2 linked regions of the Homo sapiens genome follow. The protein of the gene in region 2 interacts with the protein of the main gene of each other region in a pairwise test. Each region holds a gene or a part of one and is shown on either strand. Other genes may lie near its edges.

The links.
Region 1: the proteins of TTF2 (region 2) and NVL interact in a two-hybrid assay, tested with the Homo sapiens proteins (one study listed by BioGRID and IntAct).

Annotation. Positions count from the first base shown.
Region 1 is NC_000001.11:224,326,896-224,334,870, forward strand, and holds the start of NVL (nuclear valosin-containing protein-like), read right to left. Parts: upstream 3,278-7,975; 5' UTR 3,233-3,277; coding exon 3,176-3,232; intron 1-3,175. UniProt on the Homo sapiens protein: Participates in the assembly of the telomerase holoenzyme and effecting of telomerase activity via its interaction with TERT. Involved in both early and late stages of the pre-rRNA processing pathways.
Region 2 is NC_000001.11:117,105,300-117,108,231, reverse strand, and holds the end of TTF2 (transcription termination factor 2), read right to left. Parts: 3' UTR 779-2,932; downstream 1-778. UniProt on the Homo sapiens protein: DsDNA-dependent ATPase which acts as a transcription termination factor by coupling ATP hydrolysis with removal of RNA polymerase II from the DNA template. May contribute to mitotic transcription repression. May also be involved in pre-mRNA splicing.

The sequences.
Region 1 (7,975 bases), about 110 Mb from region 2:
TGGCTCATATCTGTAATCCCAACACTTTGGGAGCCCAGGAGTTTGAGACCACCCTGGGCAACAAAGTTTGACCTCATCTCTACAAAAAAATTAAAAAGTTGGTTGGATGTGGTGGCTTGTGCTTATACTCCCAGCATTTTGGGAGGCCAAGGTGGGAGATCGCTTAAGCCCAGACTTAGAGGTTGCAGTGAGCTATGATCGAGCCACTGCACTCCAGCCTGGATAACAGAACGAGACCTTATCTCAAAAATAAATACATAAATAAGCCCGGGCGTGGTGGCTCACACCCGTAATCCCAGCACTTTGAGAGGCCAAGGCGGGAGGATTGCTTCAGTCCAGGTGTTCGAGACCAGCCTGGGCAAGGTGGTAAGATCTCATCTCTACAAAAAATTTTAAAATTAGCCAGACATGGTGGTGCATACCTGTGGTCCCAGCTACATGGGAGGCTGAGGTGGGAGAATCACTTGACCCCACGAGTTTGAGATGGCAGTGAGCAGTGTTCACACCACTGCACTCCAGCCTGGGTGACAGAGCTAGACCCAGTCTCAAAAATAAAAAATTAAAATTAAATTAAATATATAGCTAAGTGAAAATTTATTTAAAATATTGTGTAAGACTATCTTCAGGCTATGTGTGTAAGGTGTATATGAAACATAAATAAACTTCATGTTTAACTTGGGTCCCATCCCCAAATATCTCATTATGTATATGCAAACATTCCAAAACCTGAAAAAAATCAATCTGAAACATTTTTTGGTCTTAAGCATTTAGAATAAGGGATATTCATTTGTACTTTTATAATGAACCAAAGTGAAAGCTATAGAGGAAAACTGATAATGTCAAACGCTGAAAAGAGTCAAGTGTGAGGACAGAGAAGAGGCCACTAGATCCAGTAATTAGGAGTCACTGCTCAGAAACCTCAATAAAGTGAAGGAGCAAGTTGTGGGACGCGGGAACATCCAGAGGAAGAGTAATTCAGAGTGACTGAACAACGAGAACAAAGGTCCTGTGCTTGGCATGTTTGAGAAGGTCTGTGTGGCTGGGACAGGAGAGGAAAAGTAAACTAGGACAACAGAGGCCAGAATATGCAGGGCTTTTCAGACTGGGTTTTACTCTAGATGTCTGTGACTCCACTGAAAGGTTTTGAGCAGGGCTATGGCAAGCTCTGATTTCCCCCCCCTTTTTTTTAGTTATACTTTAAGTTCTGGGATACATGTGCAGAACATGCGGGTTTGTTACATAGGTATACAGGTGCCATGGTGGTTTCCTGCACCCATCAACCCGTCATCTACATTAGGTATTTTTCCTAATGCTATCCCTCCCCTAGCCCGATTTTTCCCTTTAAAAGGATGTCTTGGCCACGCCTGTAATCCCAGCACTTTGGGAGGCTGAGGCGGGCAGATCACCTGAGGTCAGGAGTTCGAGACTAGCCTGGCCAACATGGTGAAATCCCATCCCTACTAAAAATACAAAAAGTAGCCAGGCGTGATGGCATGCACTTGTAATCCCACGTACTCGGGAGGCTGAGGCAGGAGAATCACTTGAACCCAGGAGGCAGAGGTTGCAGTGAGCAGAAAAAAAAAAAAAAATTAGATGTCTCTGGCTGCTCTGTGGGGAATAGGCTTTAGGTAAAAGCAGAATCAGAGAGATCAGTTAGGAGGCTATTGTAATAGTATAAGGTAGAGATGATGGTTTGGACTAAGATGGTTACAGGGAAAGACAGTAAGAAGTACTTGGAATATATTTTGAAAGTAAAGCCAACCAGGCTGTTGACAGATGGTATACAGGAAATGAAAGACTCAGAATGATCCTTAAGGTTTTTGGCCTTAACAACAGGACGAACGGTAGTATCATTTACTGAGATACAGAACACTAAGAAAGGGCAGATTTGAAGGAAGAAAAAAATCACAAATTCCACTTGGCCATTTTAATTTGGAGATATGCTGACTAGGCAGCTGGATATATCAATCTGTACTTCAAGATAAAATCTGGACTGGAGATATAAAGTTAGCAGTCATAAATATACAGAGGCCAGTGCAGCAGCTTGCACCGGTAATCCCAGCACTTTGGGAGGCTGAGGCCCGATCGCTTGAGCCCAGGAGTTAGAGACCAGCCAGAGTAACATAGTGGAACCCCGTCTCTACAAATAATAATAATAATAATAAATTAGCCAGGTGTGGTGGTGCACACCTGTAGTCCCAGCTACTGGGGAGGCTGAGGAGGGAGGATCACTTGAGTCAGGGAGGCCGAGGGTGCAGTGAGTTATGATTGTGCCCATAAACAGCCACTGCACTCTAGCCTGGGCAACAGAGCGAGACTATGTCTCAGAAAAATAAAAATAAAATGAAATAAATACATAGATAATAGAGTATGTAGATACTACTCAAAGGTTATTACACTAAATGAGATCACATAGGAAGTATGGATAGATAAGAAAGGTGTATGAGGAAAGAGGAGGAAGGGGAGGTAAGAGAACAGTGGCACAGAGCACTTCCAACATTTACAAGTTGGTAGGAAAAGATGGGTCCGAAAAGGAGATTGTTTAGGGGCTGGTGAAGTGAAAGAAAAACAAGGAGAATGTGTAGCTCACAAATTCCTAAGTGAAGAAAATTCTCTCCCACCTTTTAACTCAGACTGCTTGCTTACATTCTGAGGTATTTGCCACACACTGCTTTTTACTGATGGTCATGAAAATGAGAAAACCGTAGGCAAAGTGCCTGTTACTGTTGCCAGACCCATGTTATCTCGTTTTAGTGTGTAAGTTCCTTGAGAACGGAAATTAACATATTATTTATGCCACCCCTTCTCAAGGACCTCTTACAATGCGAGCGTTTGAAGACCATTCCTGTGCTAACTTCACAAGCCAAAGAGGTTAAAATTCAAAGGCTACCTCCACTCTACTGAATGATCTGCGCTGAAGACGACCAGACAACTTGGGCAGCCCTACCAAGCTGCACCCTCCCACCATCCCCGGCTTCTCCCTGAGACTCCGCACCAACGTGGGTAGGGAAGGCCCCGGCAGCACCAACTAAGGAGAAACAGACGCACGCCCAGACCCAGACTGGGGAAAGAAGACTAGTTGAGTTCCACCTGGATGCCACCCGACAAAAGGGGAGTGGCACCCTGGGGCAGCGATCGGGGCCCTTGGCGAGGCCAAGCGGTGCAGAATACACACCTGGATGACTCGCTGCTTGAGTTTATTATCCACGAACCCTGCAGGTCTGGGCTTCATCGCGTCGGTCTTCCAAGCCACAGCTCGGACCGCCAGCTCCTAGTCAACCGGGGGCCTCGTAGGGGTTGCCCGCCGCGATCGCCGGGCCAGTTGCACCTGAAATGCGCCCCTCCTGGGGCCTAGCCCGCGCCGTTTCCGTCAGAATAAAAGTAATGCGAATGAAGGGGAAAAAATTCCGAGGAGAGGGAGAAGACTTGAAAACCTCAGGGAGTTTCTAGGGGCCTTATTTTGCAGGCCTGCCCAGTGGACCCTGGAAGATTAGGACCCCTTTGAACGCGCTCAACTTTATTGGTTCCCCGCCGGGCGAACCAGGTGGGAGGAAGTTCCTACCCCGGCGCGGTGTGCGGAGACGCTGTCAACGGCGTCCTCTGGAAAACTTGGTTTGCTTTCCTCAGGCGTTCCAGCCACACCTCATTCTGATACAAAGCTAGTCTTCGCAAAACCAGCCACGGTAGATACTTGGAGTGATAAAATCAGGGTAAAAACACACCACCAGCCGCTGCTTGCTTTCCCACGTAGTTATCTTACATTTTAGAGGCCCGACAAAAGGGCTAGGTGAAAAAGAAAAGGAAGGACGGATTTATCCAGATAACTAAGTCATTTGTTACTTTTAGAACTCGTTTGACTTACGCTGTTATCATCGGCAGGTAATTTGTTGAATATATCCAGTGCAGGACTCCTTGGCCCAGAATTTTATCAAACGTTTGTATTTGCCCCAAGAAGTTTATCCTGCACTTAGGGAGACACAAAGGGACAGTTACCAAGCATTAAAAAAAAAATGCTGGCTTTAGTTTCTGTCTTCTTGTTTATTTCAACCGTGTTTTGAGTATTCTTATTTCAGGTCCTCCTTGGCTTATGACAAGGTTAAGTGCAGTGTATTAAGGGGCAGAGGGGAGAGAAAATGGAATTAAGAGAAGGGCGTGAGGCCGGGCACGGTGGCTCACACCTGTAATCCCAGCACTTTGGGAGGCCGAGGCGGGCAGATCACTTGAGGTCAGGAGTTCACGACCAGCCTGGCCAACATGGTGAAACCTTGTCTCTACTAAAAATATAAAAATTAGCACTGAATTAAGTATTAGATTTCCCACTCAAAATATTGATCCGTTTGGTTGCAACTTCATTTCCTACTTCTTCACTATGTGTAGTTTTATTTTTTATTTTTTTAGTTGTAAAATATAAGAACATTCACCATCTTAAACATTTTAAAGTGTGCAGTTTAGTGATAATACATTCATAATATGCAACCATCACTGCCATCTAGTTCCAGAACTCTTTTCATCTTGTACAACTAAAACTCTATACTAATTAAAAAATAACTCCCCATTCCTCCCTCCCCCCAGCCCCTGGCAACTACCATTCTACTTACTGTCTTTATGATTTTGACTACACTAACTTCCTCATATAAGTGGAATCTTCCAGTATTTGACTTTTGTGACTGGCTTGTTTCTTAGCTTAATGCCCTCATATAGCATGTGTTAGAATTTCCTTCTTTCTTTTCTTTTTTTTTTTTTTTTTTTTTTGATACAGAGTCTTGCTCTGTTGCCCAGGCTGGAGTGCAGTGGCGCAATCTCAGCTCACTGCAACCTTCGCCTCCTGGGTTCAAGAGATTCTACCACCTCAGCCTCCCAAGTAGTTGGGACTACAGGTGTGTACCACCACACCCGGCTAATTTTTTGTATTTTTAGTAGAAATGGCGTTTTGCCATGTTGGCCAGGCTGATCTCCAACTCCTGACCTGAGGTGATCCACCTGCCTTGGCCTCCCAAAGTGCTGGGATTACAGGTATAAGCCACCGCACCTGGCCTTTCCTTCACTTTTAAGGCTGAATAAAATTTGGCTCTTTTGTTGCCATTCTGCCTTTTGCCATGGGATGACACAGCAAGAAGGCCCTCACCAAATAACAACTCCTTGATATTGGACTTTCCAGCCTTCTTGCATTCATTCAACAAGTGTTTATTGAGTGCCTACCAGTTTCAGTCTCTGCTCTGCGCTTTAGGCTTGTGGGGAAAAGTGGAAGAATTATAACTAACTTTTTATAACATTTAAAAAATTTGATTAGGTATTTATGTGCTTGATTAAATGTTAGCAAAGATTCCCTACAGCATATAGTACAAATGTAGTCAATGCTCAGTAATTTTTAAAATGAAATGTAATTCTGTGCATGCCAAATGTCCAACATAGAATGAAAACACACTGAGGCCAGGCATGGTGGCTCATGCCTATACTACCAGCACTTTGGGAGGCAGAGGCAGGTGGATCACCTGAGGTCAGGAGTTCAAGACTAGCCTGACCAATGTGGTGAAACCCTGTCTCTATTAAAAATACAAAATTATCCGGGTGTGGTGGCCCATGCCTGTAATCCTAGCTACTTGGGAGGCTGAGGCAGGAGAATCACTTGAACCTGGGAGGCAGAGGTTGCAGTGAGCTGAGATTGCGCCATTGCACTCTAGCCTGGGCAACAAGAGCAAAACTCCATCTCAAAAAAACGAACAAATAAACAACCACATTGAAAGGCCTAGTAGTATCATGACATGTACTAGGCAATATAGTTTATTAGTCTATAATTTGTCATAGAATACTATCCTACACTTAGGGTTGACTTCATGGGTATGTGACCTCTGCAGTCACACAGGGCCCTGTGCTCAGAAGGGCCCCACAGGTGGTTTAATGCTGTACTGTTGCCATCTTGAAATGCTTTCTGAATAAGCTGTCCCTTATTTTCATTTTGCACTGGGTCTTACAAATTATGTAACCAGCCATTCATATGTAAACTTGAAGTACTCTAGAATGCTGCCTTCTTCTTCTTTTTCTTCTTTTTTTTTTTAGGTGGAGTCTCACTATATTGCCAGGCTAGAGTGCAGTGGTACGATCTTGGCTCACTGTAACCTCCGCCTCCCGGGTTCAAGCGATTCTTCTGCCTCAGCCTCCCAAGTAGCTGGGACTCCAGGTGCATGCCACCATGCCCAGCTAATTTTTGTATTTTTAGTAGAGACAGGGTTTCACCATATTGGCCAGGCTCGTCTTGAACTCCTGACCTCGTGATTCGCCTGTCTCGGCCTCTCAAAGTGCTGGGATTACAGGCATGAGCCACTGCACCCAGCCACCTCCTTCTTAAAGGCAGGGAATGTGTTGTTCATCTCACTACTGCTTCAGGTGCAGAAGGCAATAATTGAAAGTGAATTAATACTAGATGATAATATGCTTGAACATTTCTCGTTGGAATTATTTCATCAATTATTGCCCTGAAGACCATTTTACATTGATTCCAATGTTTGGATTTACAATATCATGCATCAAAACCAAAAAGATTACTGAACAGTAACCTAAGTGCATATACACTTTAAGCACTTCCTTTTTTAATTGAAGCATCCTCCATTCTTTGGTGGTGTAACCCCACCTAGTGGTAGTGGCGTATTTTATCTTTTGTCTTTCACACTTTCTCCTAAACCTCATACAGTATTTCACAAGCAAACAGCTTCTGGTCTAATTGTGCTTCATAACTAGGGTGATTTATGTCCAGATTTGCTCAGGACAGTCCTGATTTTTGATTCAGCAAAATTATTGCTAGTATCCCCTTTGTGGAAATACATGAAGACCAAATACATAAGAAGAGGTGAAGACTATTTGTTCAGAGTTTGCTATAACAAGGGAGTCAGCCACCATCACTTGTGTTTTGGCAGAGCCTCAAAGACAGGCAGAGGAGTGGGAAAACTTTATGGTGGGGAATAGGGGAAGGCTTCAGGTACGCCCTAACTGAAGACTGTTGTCATAGGGAAGCTATAGGTGGGCTAAATAGAACTAGCAGAGCATCCTATGTGTTTGGTTGGGATGCACAGTTGGTTTTCTTTTTGGTCCTATGTTGACAGCAGGTCCAAAAATTAGAAAAGCTATCATTTATTAATAAAGTTTTTGCCATCTGGGGCCGTTTGTTACAGGGGTTGTTGCTGGGTTCCTGGATTGTTTGCTAGTGATAGTGATCTAACTTCCTACATGTCTGACTTGTAGATGATATATTGGTTTTCTGGTCTGGTTGCTGCAGATTGTGAGTCAGAGTTCTATTTTTGCATTTGGTCTGGCCATTTTTCATTCACATGTTCAGTGTCTTCCTTTTATCTCTCAAAAAGGTTCTAGTTTGGACAATGTATGACCACTCTATGTATAGTAGGAACATGGAGAAAAAGATGAAGTTTGCATGTCAGAGGATCCTTACTGAGATGCAAAAATGAGGCTTCCTGCTTGCTGGGAGCTGGAGACTGAGTTCTGTTCTGTTATGTTCTTTTCTTTTCTTTTTCGAGACAGGGTTATATGGTTTGGCTATGTCGCCACTCAAATCTCATCTTGAATTGTGGCTTCCATAATTCTTATGAATTGTAGGAAGGACCTAGTGGCAGATAAATGAATCATGGGGGTGGTTTCCCCCATACTGTTCTGGTGGTAGTGAATAAGTCTCATGAGATCTGATGATTTTATAAGGTGTTTCCTCTTTTGCTTGGCTCTAATTCTGTCTCATCTGCCATCATGTAAGACGTGCCTTTACTCTTCCACCATGATTGTGAGACCTCCCCAGCCACGAGGAACTATAGGTCCATTAAGTCTGTTTTTCTTTATAAATTACCCAGTCTTGGGTATGTCTTTATCAGCAGTGTGAAAATTGACTAATACAGAGCATCCCACTCTGTCGACCAGGCTAGAGTGCAGTGGCATGATTTCAGCTCACTGCAACCTCTGCTTCCCTGTTTTTTTT
Region 2 (2,932 bases):
CAAAATAGCAACTTCCCACCCCAGAGTTGCCCAGTTTCATCACCATCTCACATATATATATGTTTTGTTTTGTGGTTTTTTTTTTTGGAGACAGGGTCTCTCTCTCTCTGTTACCCAGGCTGGAGTGCAGTGGCACAATCTCGGCTCACTGCAGCCTCTGCCTCCCGAGGTTCAAGTGATTCTCCCACCTCAGCCCCTGGAGTAGGTGGAACCATAGGCACACCACCCCCCCGACCCCATGCCTGGTGAATTTTTTGCATTTTTTGTAGAGATGGGGTTTTGCCATGTTGCCCAGGCTGGTCTCAAACTCCTGGCCATCTCAGCCTCCCGAAGTGCTGGGATTACAGGCCAACATGTATATATTCTGTTTGTTGTCTGTCCTCTCATATTAGATTGTAAGCTCTATGAGGGCAGGGATATTTTTAAACTACCATACTGTCCCGATGTAGGACAGTTCCTGGCACATAGTAGAGACTTAATATTATGATCAGTGAATAAAGATCTAATTGGTAGAATTTTTAGTTTGGATCTCCTTGGTATCTGTTTTTATAAGCCAGACTTCCCTTCTCCCGAACCTCAGTATTTGTCATTTAAACAAATACCACTTGGAAAAAAAATCAGCCTTATCTCGAGTCTGTTGGATAAATTATATGCACCTGAGAGACCAGCCTTGAATTTTCCAATTACCTCATACATCTAGGGAACTGCTTCCCATGAAGAAGCCTGTTGTATTATATCATCTATCCCCATGTGCCTTTTAATGAATCTGATTTCAGAATTGAGAACAAAAAGCTTACCATTTATTTCAGTTGGAGGTTTCAGTGATTGGACAACTTTATGTAGATGAAGTAACATTGCAATAAAAAATTTCCAGAAGACATCTAGGTTCTGGCTAATGTGTTAGCCTTTAAGCAATATTAATGGTAACAATTCTGTTACAAATATTTAAAGTTTGTGTGTGGGTGTTGGGGATTGGGGGTGCTGTCTCATGCATGCACTACAGTGGAGTCCAAACTCAATTTAACTGAGCTGTCTTGCCTGCTGAAAGACCTGGCAGAGTCAGTGATCAACAGAGCCCAAGACTCCAAGGTGAGGCAAAAAAAGAGTGGGAGGATTTAGGAGCTGTCCCCAGTGTAACAAAGTGCTTCAGAAATCACCTTTGAATTGTGAGCATTGAAGCGTCAACAAGATGCAGCATTATGATGTACGTTATGCCTCTGGTGTTACAGGTAAGAAAAAAGAGTCACAAATAAGAGCCTCTGTCCTCTGGGATGTTGTAACAGGATAAACACCTTGGCTGTCTTGGATAATAAACATACACATACCTGTCAGCCCACCCATACTCTAATGTCCCAAATGCAATAGTTGCTCAACTTTCCTCCAGAGAATGTATCCCTGTATGGTAGGTTTGGCTCAATGAAGAGGTGGTTCAATGAAGTGGATGCTCATTAGAAGCAGGCAGTATAGGAAGAAACATCTCACTCTGACTTGTGAGCTCTTACATATTGATTTCCATTCTTTCATCACTTCCTCAGATCTTCCCTAACTAGGTCAAATCCTGTTATAAGCCCTCCCAGCCGCACAGTCCTCTCTTGTAGCACTCAGCATCATGGCTGATTCACAGCCACACGGGGTTGACTAATGCCTGTCTCCCTTAGATGCTAAGCCTCAGGAGGACAGGATAGTTTTTCATTTTTGCTTACTTTTATATTTCCAGTGCCCAGCAGTGCCTGGCATATAAAAAGTGTTCAATATACATTTCTGAATTACTGTGTGGATAATTAAGCAAGAAAATAGTCTCATCCTTTCTGAAGTAGTCTCTACCTATTAATACATCTGGATTTAGCTATGGAATCTGGGTAAAAAGAACTCAAGATAGTAAAAACATTGTGTAGCTGCATATCTGTCGCCCCTCTTCCCTCCCTGGGAGTTAGGCTGGGTTTGCTTTTTTTTTTTTTCATATCTATCTCCATCCCCTAACTACTGACTTCTGTGGTAGTTTGTACTATAAATGACCCTGATTTCATTTGTAGTTATGAAGACATTTTAGTCTAGGTCATATGCCTAGGAATTCTGAATTTCTATTATAATTCTCTTTGTGCCTACAGATGTGCTTTTAAATTGTTCCTGCCCTTTCCTAAGTCTAGATGCTATATCACAAACAGCAGCACAATATCCCACTTTGGAAACCTAATTCTTTCAAGGTATTAGAGTTGACAGCAAAATTTCAGACAACCAGAGGCCACACTGAACACTGGTGTCTCCATGCTTATCCTATTAGTGCAGGAGAATCTGGCTTCACCTTTGAGCCCTGCTAAAAGCCATTTCATTGAGCAACAGACAATCAGAGCAAGGAAACAACTCAGTGTTCATGAATTGCCATGCTAAATCACTCACAGGATTGATAGAGAAATAAGTCACCTCCCATAAACAGAAAATTTTTTTTTTCTGTTTTTCCTTCTTTTCATTAGCAATTGTTCCAAAAACACTTACTCTGCTAATTTCTGCTAGAAAGAATCACCGTTCTTTCTCTGTGGCCCAGGCTGGAGTGCAGTGGTATGATCTCAGCTCACTGTAACCTCCGCCTCCTGGATTCAAGTGATTCTCCTGCCTCAGCCTCCCGAGTAGCTGCAATTACAGGCACCCAACATCACGCCTGGCTAACTTTTGTATTTTTAGTAGAGAGGAGGTTTTGCCATGTTGGCCAGTCTGGTCTCGAACTCTTGGCCTCAAGTGATCTGCCTGCCTCAGCCTCCCAAATGCTGGGATTACAGGTGTGAACCACTGCGCTGGGCCTGCAATGGGAGTCACTGACAAGGTTTTTAAAGGGCCCAGGACTCTGTCTAGCTGCGGCATGCACAATACTCCTATTTGATCAACATGGCTAAGGCAAAGTCAAACTACATACCTTCCATGAAGTCAATTCTGTCGA